Regions from separate parts of the Homo sapiens genome. Here region 2 is linked to region 1. Evidence: fine-mapped expression QTL. Tissue or cell type: whole blood. Region 1 holds a variant in brackets; the other region holds the start of a gene. All regions are shown on one strand. Distances are between the middles of the regions.

The links. PIP is the estimated chance that this variant, and not a neighbour inherited with it, causes the effect.
Region 2: it holds the start of RTKN2, and the variant in region 1 is fine-mapped to the expression of RTKN2 in whole blood (INTERVAL, PIP 0.97).

The regions. Positions count from the first base shown.
Region 1 is chr10:62,177,454-62,185,445 of GRCh38, forward strand. It overlaps a transcript of RTKN2 not described here. Among named protein-coding and RNA genes, the nearest start is that of LINC02621, 78 kb to the right of the region's middle. RefSeq lists an enhancer at 3,032-3,201. The variant G/A (reference allele first, on the strand shown) is at 6,071.
Region 2 is chr10:62,266,832-62,270,831 of GRCh38, forward strand. It overlaps RTKN2 (rhotekin 2), which reads right to left and starts at 2,013. Exons shown (of 12, transcript NM_145307.4): 1 at 1,720-2,013. The coding sequence starts at 1,779. All of the region lies in intron 1 of LINC02621 (long intergenic non-protein coding RNA 2621), which reads left to right. RefSeq lists a silencer at 1,765-2,094.

The DNA.
Region 1 (7,992 bases):
AGAATGCACATGAAAAGATGTTCTACATATTTAATCACAAGGAAAATGGAAACTGAAACCTTTAGAAGATACTACTATCTACCAATTAGAATGGCTAAAATAAAAAAGTTGGCTACCACTATACATATATAGTGAAATTTTACATAAATGGATAATGGATGGTAGGAGCCAGGTGTTTCACTGTTCCAGTGAGAGGTTACAGATGATCAAGGGGAGGGGGCTAGACTGATCTTTGTGGTCACGGTTTAGAGTTGAAGACATCAGTTTAAACTCATGTTTAGCTTAATATAGATAGAAGTATTTATAGATATGAATATATACATTCATATATACACATATATTTTCTTCTGTCTGCAGAGGCTAGAAGCAATGAAATCCCAGTAAAAATGAGCACACTAAACTACAAGATCTTGGTTTCTAATACCATTCTTGAAATAAAATAAACTAGGGCTCTTTGGAGAAATGGCTGGTTCTAGGATTGGGGGAGGAAATATACAGGAGGAGCCTGGAGTATTTTGTTTTACCAAAAAGAAAAGAAGTGCTCAAATAAAAACACATTGATGGAGGCATGTCAAAGGAACAGAGGAGCCAACTGAAAGCTCCCACCAGCCTGACATGGTGTTTGTCAGCTTCTTCTATTCTGAAGCTACTGGGTTTTTTTCCTACCTTTTCATACTGTACTCTTTGAAAGGAAGTCACCAAGTGAAGCACTGGCTTAAGAAGTGAAGTTATGCTTCACCTCCTTGATAGTAGAGAATCTGCATATTTTGAATTCTTCTTTCCTATTATTTACCTATTCAACAATTTATATCAGTATGGATAAAAAATAGTTTTTTACATTCTGTGTTATCATCCAATAATACTTTATTTTGTTGCTCAAGTGTTTCCAGCTTTGGTTATTGAGGGTATTTTTTGGAGCAACAAGATATTCCAGGCTCATCATGTGCTGTCCCTATCCCAGAACCAGAATCAGTCAAGGATCTCTGGTTCCTTTTACTGGAGAATAGTATTTAGAACCAAGATCTGGGGGCTCAGTATGTTTATGGCTACTGGTATGTCATTATTTCTAGGCCTTCTCGATGGACAGAGCTAGGATAGATATGTAAAAAAAAAAATTAGCCCATAGTGATACTTCCAACTGTAACCCAACACTACAGTGTATGTTCTAGTCTTCCCCTTTCCATACATGCAAGTTCCATTACCAACAGTAAGAAACCTGGCTTCCACTATTCTCAATATATATACTCATTTATCAAGTCTAGATTGCACAAAAGATTGTTTCAGAGTTGCTAGTCCAGTCATTGCTATGGAATACAACAATGCAGCACTTAGAGATAAGGAGTTCACTTTCTGTAACAGAGGCAGTAGAGAAAGAAAGTTAAGAGCATAGCTGTGGAGTCAGAATTTGAATCTGTCATTTTCAAAGTGTTTGACTTTGGGCAAGTTACGTTGCCCCTCAAGTATCAGTTTCCTCATCTATAAAATGGGAATAATGATGATATCGACTTCACTGGGTTGTTGTGAAGATGAAATCGTCTATTGTATGGTGGCTGCTATATTTTGGATATTTGTTCCTCCAAATCTTATGTTGAAATTTGATCCCCAATGTTGGAGGCGGGCTTAATGGGAGGTGTTTGGGTCATGGGGGTGGGTCCCTCATGAATAGATTAATGTCCTCACCCCAGGGGTGTGTGAGTGAGTTCTGGCTTTATTAGTTCCTGCCAGAGATGGTTTTTTTTTTGTTTGTTTGTTTGTTTTTTTGTTTTTTGTTTTTTTTTTGAGATGGAGTCTTGCTGTGTCGCCCAGGCTGGAGTGCAGTGGCACTATCTCCACTCACTGCTACCTCCACCTCCCGGGTTCAAGCAGTTCTCCTGCCTCAGCCTCCCGAGTAGCTGGGATTACAGGTGCATGCCACCACGCCCTACTAATTTTTGTATTTTTAGTAGAGACGGGGTTTCACCATGTTGGCCATGATGGTCTCAATCTCCTTATCTTGTGATCCACCCGCCTCAGCCTCCCAAAGTGCTGGGATTACAGGCTTGAGCCACTGTGCCCAGCCCTTCCCACCTTGCACCTCCCCCAGTCCCTTGCTTCTGCTCTTGCTATGTGATCTCTGCTCACACTGTCTCCCCTTCAACTTCTGCCATGAGTGGAAGCAGTCCGAGGCCCTCACCAGATGCAGATGCTGGCACCATGCTTCTTGTACAGTCTGCAGAATTGTAAACCAAATAAAGCCCTTTTATTTAGAAATTACCCAGCCTCAGGTATTTATTTTTTTATTTTTGTTTTGTTTTATTTTTTGAGACAGAGTCTCACTGTGTCGCCCAGGCTGGAATACAGTGGTGCCATCTCTGCTCACTGCAACCTCCCCCTCCTGGATTCAAGAGATTCTTTTGCCTCAGCCTCCTGAGTAGCTGGGATTACAGGCATATGCCAGCACACCTGGCTAATTTTTGTATTTTTAGTAGAGACGGGGTTTTCCATGTTGGCTAGGTTGGTCTTGAACCTGTGACCTCAGGTGATCCACCTGTCTCAGCCTCCCCAAAGTGCTGGGATTACAGGCGTGAGCCACCATGCCTGGCCTGTGTAGTGTATAGTAACACTACACAGACTAACAAGAGTAGCTATAGTAAGCATTCAATAAGTAAAAGCTAATTGTTGTTGTAGATGCCTTTAGGAAACTCTCTTTAAGATACTATGTAGAGTGAAAAAAGAGAGAACAAAATAGAATGAATCTTAAGGCCTCAATCATGCCTAGACATTTTCTAACTACTACCAAAGGAACTGTTAACATCAGGGTAAAATGAAACTCTTTTCCTTCTACAACTTTCTGTGTTGTATAAAATTTTACCATGCGCCTGTGTTACTTTATACTTAAAAGGACAATGATTTGGCTTATTAAAAGGTTGATTTAATGTCTCAAAAAGAAAAGGTTTGAAGACAATGTCTGTGAAACTGGTTTTCCTGAGATATATTGCCAAATGTTCTCTGCATCCTGGCCAGCCTGGGAAGCTGGCCCTGCAAGGCAGCATGCCCATGGCCACTAATTTCTCTTATTACTGCCATAGTTAGGTTCCATATCCTATTTTTTCATGGCACTGGAAAGAAACATGGATCCACTAGTAATGTTCTCTTCATTATGTTCTCTCTCTCTTTCATTCATATATTCATTCATTCAACAGATGTTTACCAAGCACCTACCTCGTTCTGAGCACTACAGCAGGCACCAGGGATGCAGCAGGCAAAAAAATAAAACAAAAACGATAAAAAATCTTTATCCTCGTGGAGCTTGCATTATAGTATAGGAATATTTCAAGAATCTATTGCTGCTTAACGAACTATTCCAAAACATAGTGTCCTCAAACAACAACCTTTATTTCATCACAATTCTATGAGTCAGGAATTCAGGGCTCAGCTTGGCAGTTCTTCTGTTCCATCTAGTATTGACTGGATCTCTTCCTTGACTCCCTTCAGCTGATGGGTGATGTTGGCACAGACGGTTCCAGAAGGCTTTAGTCACATGTCCAGAGCTTTGGTACATGGCCTCTTCTTCACCTGGCTAGTTTGGGCCCCCTTACAGCATGGTGGTCTCAGGGCATTTGTTCTTCTAATATGGCTGTGAACTTCCAAGAGGAGGCACCCCAAGGATGGAAGGCAGAAGCCCAGATTCAAGTGAGGGCAAAATAGGCTCCATTTCTTGATGGAGAATGACAATGTCACATTAGAAAACAACATGTGGGATGAAAGTTAATGTTGTAGTCATCTTTAGAAACATAATCTACCTTAGAGAGACAGACAACTAAAAAGACAAATGAGTAAAAATGAATTTTAAGGAGAAAACAAAAGCAGGAAAGGGAATACAGAGTGAGTTTGGGGATGGAGTTGCAATTTTAAGAGGGGCTAGAGAAGGACTGATTGAGAAAGTTACATTTAAATTAAGACTTGAGGCCGGGCGTGGTGGCTCACGCCTGTAATCCCAGCACTTTGGGAGGCTGAGGAGGGCGGATCACGAGGTCAGGAGATCGAGACCATCCTGGCTAACACGGTGAAACCCCGTCTCTACTAAAAATACAAAAAATCAGCCGGGCACGGTGGTGGGCGCCTGTAATCCCAGCTACTTGGGAGGCTGAGGCAAAAGAATGGCGAGAACCTGGGAGGCGGAGCTTGCAGTGAGTGGGGATACCGCCACAGCAGTCTGGCCTGGGCGAAAGAGTGAGACTTCGTCTCAAAAAAAAAAAAAAAAAAAAAAAAAAAGACTTGAATGAAGTGATGATAGTTGGTGTAAGAGCATTCCAGGAAGAGGAAACAGCAAGTGCAAGGCCCTGAGGCAAGAGCATGCCAGGCATGTTCAGGACAGCGCAAAAGCCAGTATATGTGGAACAAAGAGAGTGAAGTTTCTCTAGAGTAGCAGGAGATTAAGTCATATAGGTAATGGGGTCAGCAGACTGTGGACAGTCTTTTACTTCAGCTTTTACTCTGAATTAACTGGGGAGCATTTGAATGTTTTTTGCGCATGGAAGGTATACGACCTGACTTGTGTTTTCACAGGATCCTTCTGTCTGCTATCCTGAGTATAGACAGTAGAAAGCTATGTAGTAGTAGGGAGACCAGTTAGAAGGCTATTGTAATAATTCAGGCAACAGATGCTAGTGGCTTGAGTTAGGGTGGAAGCAATGGAGATGGTGATAAGTGGTTGGATTCTGGAGATATTTTTAACATATACTCAATAAGATTTGCTGGTGAATTAGATAGATGGTGTTTTGGATAGAGAGGAACCAAAGATGACTTAAAGGTTTTGACCTGAGCAACTGGAAGGATCGAGTTGGTGTTTACTAGATGAATAAAACTGTGAGAAGGTCAGAATTGGAACAGAATAGCAGAAGATCTTTTTAAAGTTTGAAATGACTACTATGCTTCCAAGTGCAGCAATTTAATAGGAGCTGCAACACACAAGTTAAGTCCTCACTTAACGTCATCAGTAGGTACTTGGAAACTTCAGCTTTAAGGAAACACACAATGGAACCAAATTACTGCAGGCTAATTGATATAAACAAGAGCTAAGTTCCTATGGCATATTTCTGGTCACAAAAACATCACCAAACTTCTAAAGAGTAAAACACTTCTAATATTAAACACTGAAATAAATGCGAACTATATATACTTTTAAGAAAGATTAATAAAAACAAGATAATTATTACCCAATTATTCCAGATGAGGGTTGAGGGTGGCCAGAGTCCACCCCAGCAGCTCAGGGTGCAAAGCGGAAGCCACCCTGGCCAGGACGCCATACCCTAGCAGGGGGCACCTCACACACACACCCACACAGGCTGGGACAATGTAGACACACCAATTCACCTGACATGCACATCTTTGGGATGTGGGAGGAAACCAGAATACCCAGAGAAAACCCACACAGACATGGGGAGAACATGGGAACTCCACACAGACAGGGGCCCCGGGCAGAAATCAATTTTTTTCCAATCAACAGTATAATGAAATGACACTGAATGGAATGATGTTATTTGAGGACCAACTGTCATTGCGTGTATGTATACATGTACACATTTTTATTTTACTTTTTATTAAGTCTTTATTATGTTATTATTTATTTATTTCAATAGGTTTTTGGGGGACCACATGGTGTTTGGTTACATGAGTAAGTTCTTTAGTGGTGATTTCTGAGATTTTGGTGCACCCATCACCCACATGCACACATTTCTAAATGCATAAAAAATTTTTGGAAATATACATTAAAAATTATTAACAGTGGTTACCTCTGGGTAATAGGAATCTTTGGAAACTGGCACTGGAATGTTAGAGGAGGAAGTAATATATGTTTTTGTTTTTTGATACCTTTCTGTATCATGTATGTACGTATATATGTATTACTATGTTCTATGTTACTTTTATGATTAAAAATTACTTAAAATTCTTGTGGTTGGTGAAATGAACCAAGTCACTGCAAACAGAAGTCTTACTAGGAAAGTCCACATTGGATCAGGGGTTTATAAGGTCCTTTCAAGCTCTGACATTGATTTCTGCAACTGGGTGTTAACTGGTAAGTCTCCCC[G/A]TCATTTCCTCCATAGGCTTCTGTGAAATTTGGTGTGTGAACAGCCTCTCTAATTCATCTGCTTCATCTTGAAAACAGTACCAAGAGCTCTCGGTGCTTAAATACCTCACAGGAAATTTGAGGTTGGATGAGATAAGGTGTTCAAATACTTTGAGTTACCACAAACACAGGTGCTCATGTAGGCACAATATTATGAGTCCTGGAATATTAACAGACCTAGTAAAAAGAAGCTGTTTCTGCCTTTTGATCACATAGGCATTTTGATACTCATGAACTCCATTTAGTCTGCGGTGGAATGAGTGTTTCTCCACAAACAGTATTAATTTTAGCATTTTTGTTCATGCCTTCTGTCAAACAAGATTTCTTCAGCCTTTGATTTTTATCAAGATTCACTTTATTCTTCAAAGCATTTAATTCAAGGTTCACTCCATCAGTGGGTGGATTAGTTGAGTAACTGAAATACCAGTGTTGAATGCCATAGTAGTTATAATATTTCTCTTCACAGGAGATATATTTACCAAAGTCATGTACTAATGAACAATGAAGTGACTGTCCAAATAGCAGACACCTGGTAAACACTGAATGGAAAATAAACATGGACAGCTCTACAAAATGTTTACTCAATGACTCTTAAATATTCTTCTAAGGTCACTATTATGTGTCAGGTGCCGTACTGGGTGCTAGGAATACAGGAAGGAGACGCGTTGTCTTTTCCCTCATGAAGCTTACATTCTACTAGAGAAATGTCACATTGTATTTTAAATTTTTCACACTGGTTCTAATGAAGTATTTGAGAAGCTATGTGAAGAGGAATTTGGAAGTTGCTGGCAGTTTCTGGAGATTATGTAGTTGATTACTATTATTCTGAAAAACAAAAAAAATCACCTTTAGTCACCCACAGAGGTAAAGAGAAAACCAGAAAGTCACCACCAATCAGAATCACAAAAGGCAGTCAGTGGAAAAGATTGCAAGTTTCAGGAAAAATGAGTTGTCTTAATATGTAAAAAAGCCTTTCTTAGAACTGGAACTTACAAGAAATGGGCTGAAAATTCTAAAAGCAAACAACCTTAAAGAATAATGTCAAACAGAGGCTGGATATTCATGAATATGATTGGTTGGGAGCATGGCTTCCGCCTACAGAAAGAGGTTGAAGTAGATTACCTCTGAGGAGCCTTCCTAGTCTAATTGAATAAGTACTGCAGTTATGAAATTATATTTTCTCTAGAGAACCCTTTCTCAACAACCAAATAACCCAAGTCGCTAATATTCTATTTATATTTTATAATTTCTTAACCAAGATCTCAAATAAGAACTAAGTAAAGAAAAAAACAGGCCTTGTTAGTTACTGAAGAGTAAATAGAAGTATAGTTTTCACTAGACAGTCTTGCCTGAAGCTCAATTAGAAATCTTACCATTCACTGGTAAAACATCTGCCAAAGTTAACAGGTAAACCACTAATTGGTAAGCGGTCACTCCAGGGCCCCTGCCATCATCACCATCCCCAACTCCCAGGAAATCTTGCAAAAAATTTTCCCATTGTTCTGCCTCCCTTTTCTAACTAATTTGCCAGCCAAATTTCTGTTTTCAGTACTAACTTTAGATGACTCTCCTCTCATGACAGCTTGACTTGTCACTCCTTATTTCTATAATCTATCAAAAATAGGACCTCCACAGTTAAAAAAAAAAAAACCCTCATAATTTGTATGGCAGATCCTCCAAGTTGACTGGTACTCAGGCACCAAGTCAGTCCCAAACTAAGGAATATTGATTGCATCAGTTCTTCCAGCTTTGATTCAAAGATTGCTTTTGGCAGGCTGGGCACGGTGGCTCAGGCCTGTAATCCCAGTGCTTTGGGTGGCCGAAGTGGGCAGATCATGAGGTCAGGAGTTCGAGACCAGCCTGGCCAAGTTGGTGAAACCCCG
Region 2 (4,000 bases), 87 kb after region 1:
TGGAAACTGAAACTTAGAAAACAGAGATAACTTATTCAAGGTTGCACAACAAGAAGAGTTTGGTTTGACCTGAATCTGACTCCAAAGCCAATACTCTATGCTGTGAGGAGTCGCAGAGGACTCCAGGGTTTCAGCAGAGGTGTTTGACCAGTGTGTGACCACCTCAAAATCTTTGGCCTTATCTCGATTACGTGGCAGCTTCATTCATGTATCAAAGGAAATACCAAATAAAAATTCAGTGTTAGTCAAGTATAAAATTATCTGACTCTCAATATTCCTGTTAGGTTGCAACCTACTACTATTTTGTGTTTTTTCTTCAAATCCAAACTGAGGAAGTAATTCCACATTTCAATCATTTTGATTTTGTCCTGCCTAAGAAATTAAGTATTGTATCTTCCCACATGTAAATAACCCAGGCTTTATGTATATTTAAACATTTATTTTCATTCCATGCAACTAAACTTCATGATTTTATCCTCTTGTCGCTTCTGTACCATTCCTATTCTTGCAGCCTGCAGCTCAATAAATACACCTGGACAGCTACACCTACACCTATATGATAGGTGCAAGAACATCAATAGAATGGCAATTCACTATAAATCAAGATTTTGTTAGCAATCAGGACAGCCAAAGTACATAACAGGACAGGACTGAAAAAAAGTACATCAAAATCTTTGAAATTTTTGAAAATGCTGGCATAAAACAGCATAAGTATTACTGATAAAGACACTGGACTTCTTTTGCATAATGAATCTTAATGTCTTGCTTTATTTTTCACAGTATTATTGAAAACTAATAATTTTGTGTCTGCTAAGGAAATCCCAGATTTTTAAACAAAGATATCAGGTGCCTCCATATGAATGAAATTGCAAATATTCTACCAATTTTGACCTACAAAACTGGCAATTTCATATGGCTTAACCTATTTCTGAAGTAGGTAAAAGAAGGTAGAGATTAAAATAGAAGTGAAGGTCCAGCTTAAAGACATCAGAGTTTTCTTTTAAGACCCTAAAGTTATGGTTAAGAGTGAAAAGTGGTAACATTTTAATAACTGATGCTGCCAAGAAATAATGTTGGTTTAGTAAAAAGTAAAATAAAAAGGTTTCTAACGCATTTTACATGGCTCAAAAGCAAACATCAAACTTCTATCCAATGTCACGTGTACTCCCTCTTTCCTTTCAAATGATTTGAGAAAGAACCCAGTATCAAACCTTCAACTTTTTCTAAAGTGCAGAGGTTGCTGTTTGCCTCTACTCCGCTCCGAACCCCCTCCCCCCAACCAGTTCTGTGTTGTGTGTAGACATCGCTCCATTACTGTGCTTCCCATTAAATCCGTAATAAGCCAGCTGTCCACTGGCCTCGCTGGGTTTCTTGGGAATCGAGGGGCTCCCATTTCCCCGGCATCACCTACACCTGCAAAAAGACAGGCGTCCAAAGCCTGGGGAGGGCAGCGGACAGGTGCGCCCGCAAACGCGCGCCTGGACCCCGGCACCGCCTTCCCAATCCGGACCTCAGCTGCCTGAGAAACTCGGGGGTTCCGATGTCCAGGCCCTTTAGAGCCCCAAGAGCGCAGTCTCCTAATCCCTCCCTTTGTTTCTGGCCACCGCTGAAATAGAGGAGCGGGGGAGAGGCTTTCCCGACTCCTCCACAAAGCAAATGCGCGAGGAACAGAACCCCGGCTCCCTCACCTTCCGCGGCAGGGTCCCTCCCGCAACTCACCTGCTGGGTGGGAAGCCCCGCCAGGCGGAGCGCAGGACCCCTCAGGCTCGGCCCCTCCATCTCCAACGCGAACTGTCCGGGCCGTCGCCACTCCTTCAAAGGGAAGATTTGAAAAGCCCGCCCCTGGCAGGAGCCGCAGAGGACGCCAACCGCCCGGCCGTACCAAGTCCCAGTCGCAGGGGCCGGGGGCGCAGGAGGAGCCGGGCCGAAGCGCACGCGCAGTGGGCGCGCCTTGCGCTCTGCAGCTCCCGCCGCCGGAAGTTGCCGAGACCCCAGGCTCTAGCGCGGCGGGGCGGGGGAGAGGGCGGCGGTGCCGGACTTAAGTCCCGGACAGGGATGTGGGCGGGCCTGGGACGGGAGTGGGAGGGGCCGCGGGGAAAGCTTCGGCGGCGGAGCGCACCTGTCCCAGCTCAGGTTTCTGGCTGGTGGTTTTCGTGGCACGCCCTTTGCACTGGGAGCTTTCTGCCCGCATCCCACCGAAGGCCTTCCAAAGTGATCGTAGCTGGACAGACTCGAGGCTGCAGTCCCTGTACTCCCAGACAACTCAGGAACCCACAGCGTCACTAAGAGCCCACGGTCTCGTTCCTAAAGAACCAATAACATTACTCTCAAACACAGCGCTCTCTGTTTCCTCTCACCTTTCCCAGCGTTGTCACCAGGGTCACCCAGATATCATGGTTTTATTCATCAGGTTCGTGAGATACTATGTCAGGCATTTCACAAGGTCTTGTCTTTGCCCCCAGTGTTTATAATCCCAGATGTTCCCCGCCAACTACTCTGTCCACTTACTTTGTTTTCTTGCGAAGGATTTCTTTCAGCTCTCTCGCCCTCTCTTTCCCTCTCCAACATCTAAGGTGATAGCAAAATGGGGTACTATTTCTCAAGAGCCTCATTTCTTGCTGCCCTAAAGATTAGCACAAAGACCCATTTTAATTCATGGATTTTGTTAATTATAAAGGGAAACATGGGATTTTTAAAAATCAAAATGAAAGCAGCAAAGATATCACACCCTTGAAAAGTCCTTAAAATTCATTGTCCCTAGTTTATCTTTATTTCCCCCTTGAAAAGGCAAGAGGAAGCCTCTTCTTGAAGAGTCTACCAAATCAACCCTCCAGCCCTCATCGCCTAGAAACCCTTGGGCATTTTTCCTCCATAAATAGGTGCCCATGTTTTTTCATTTGCCTGGGACAGACCCTGTCTGGGTCTGTTGTCCCAATGTTGCACCAATCTTGCACTTATCCCGTAGTGGATATTATGTGGTCATTTTAACTGCAAGACCCTTTTAAAAGCAGTTGGTTTGAGAATGTACTTTAAAAATATAATGGATACCCTTCCTCAAATAGGTAAAATGCCTCTTTAAGACCTTTTGGACTAGGTGATACTAGAAGCTTCCCAGTTGGGAATGATGGTCCCCTTGCATTATGAATGACCCATATCCTTACAACAATAAAATATGTGTTCAAAATTATCAACACGGAGCTCACCTCGTTTTCTACAAACACAGGTCTGAATTTCAGAATCATTATGTGCCCTTTCCTCCAATGCACATCTCTGTCTTATGCTACCACTTTGTGGTATAATTATCTCCTACTCAGTATGAGGCTGCATGAGCCTAGCTGTAGTACCTGACTCAAAAGAAAAACACACCGCGAGCCCATCATCAGACACATAGTACTTACAACACATACAGCTCTCAGTTGCAGATCAAAATACATGTAGAAGCCAGCACTTCATTAAAACAGAGGTGAGTCAACCAGTTTAGAATTGGACACTGATAGAGGAGTATTTGATGAGTTAAAACCAGATATTTAACTGGAGATACATTTATTTATGATACTAGAAGAAAGAGATTAGGCAAGATCATATTTAGTAATTATCTGTAGAATACAGTTGTTACAAGAGACCTTTCTCTTGGGAGAAGAAGTTATGATGTGGTCCTGTTTTTATTATACACCGGGAGAGGTCCCCAGGAATTGCTTAAGTACTTAATTATTATATGATGATTAAAATACCTTGGAGTAGGACTTATGTTTCCTTATTTATCCTCAAGTCCTTACTTGTTACTGCTAATTTCATCAGCCAGTTTTCTCTGGTGTATGTAATGCACATAAAATATACTCATCCATGGAAACTACAAAATTTAAAGAGTTCATATGCAGTGGCTTCATTAGCTTGAGGATTTCTCTATCAATCTATTTATTTTACAGTTCCCAGAAAGTGAGAAGTACTACGTTTTACCATCTCAAATATCTGAGAGAGAACATTTGGGCATCTCTTAACC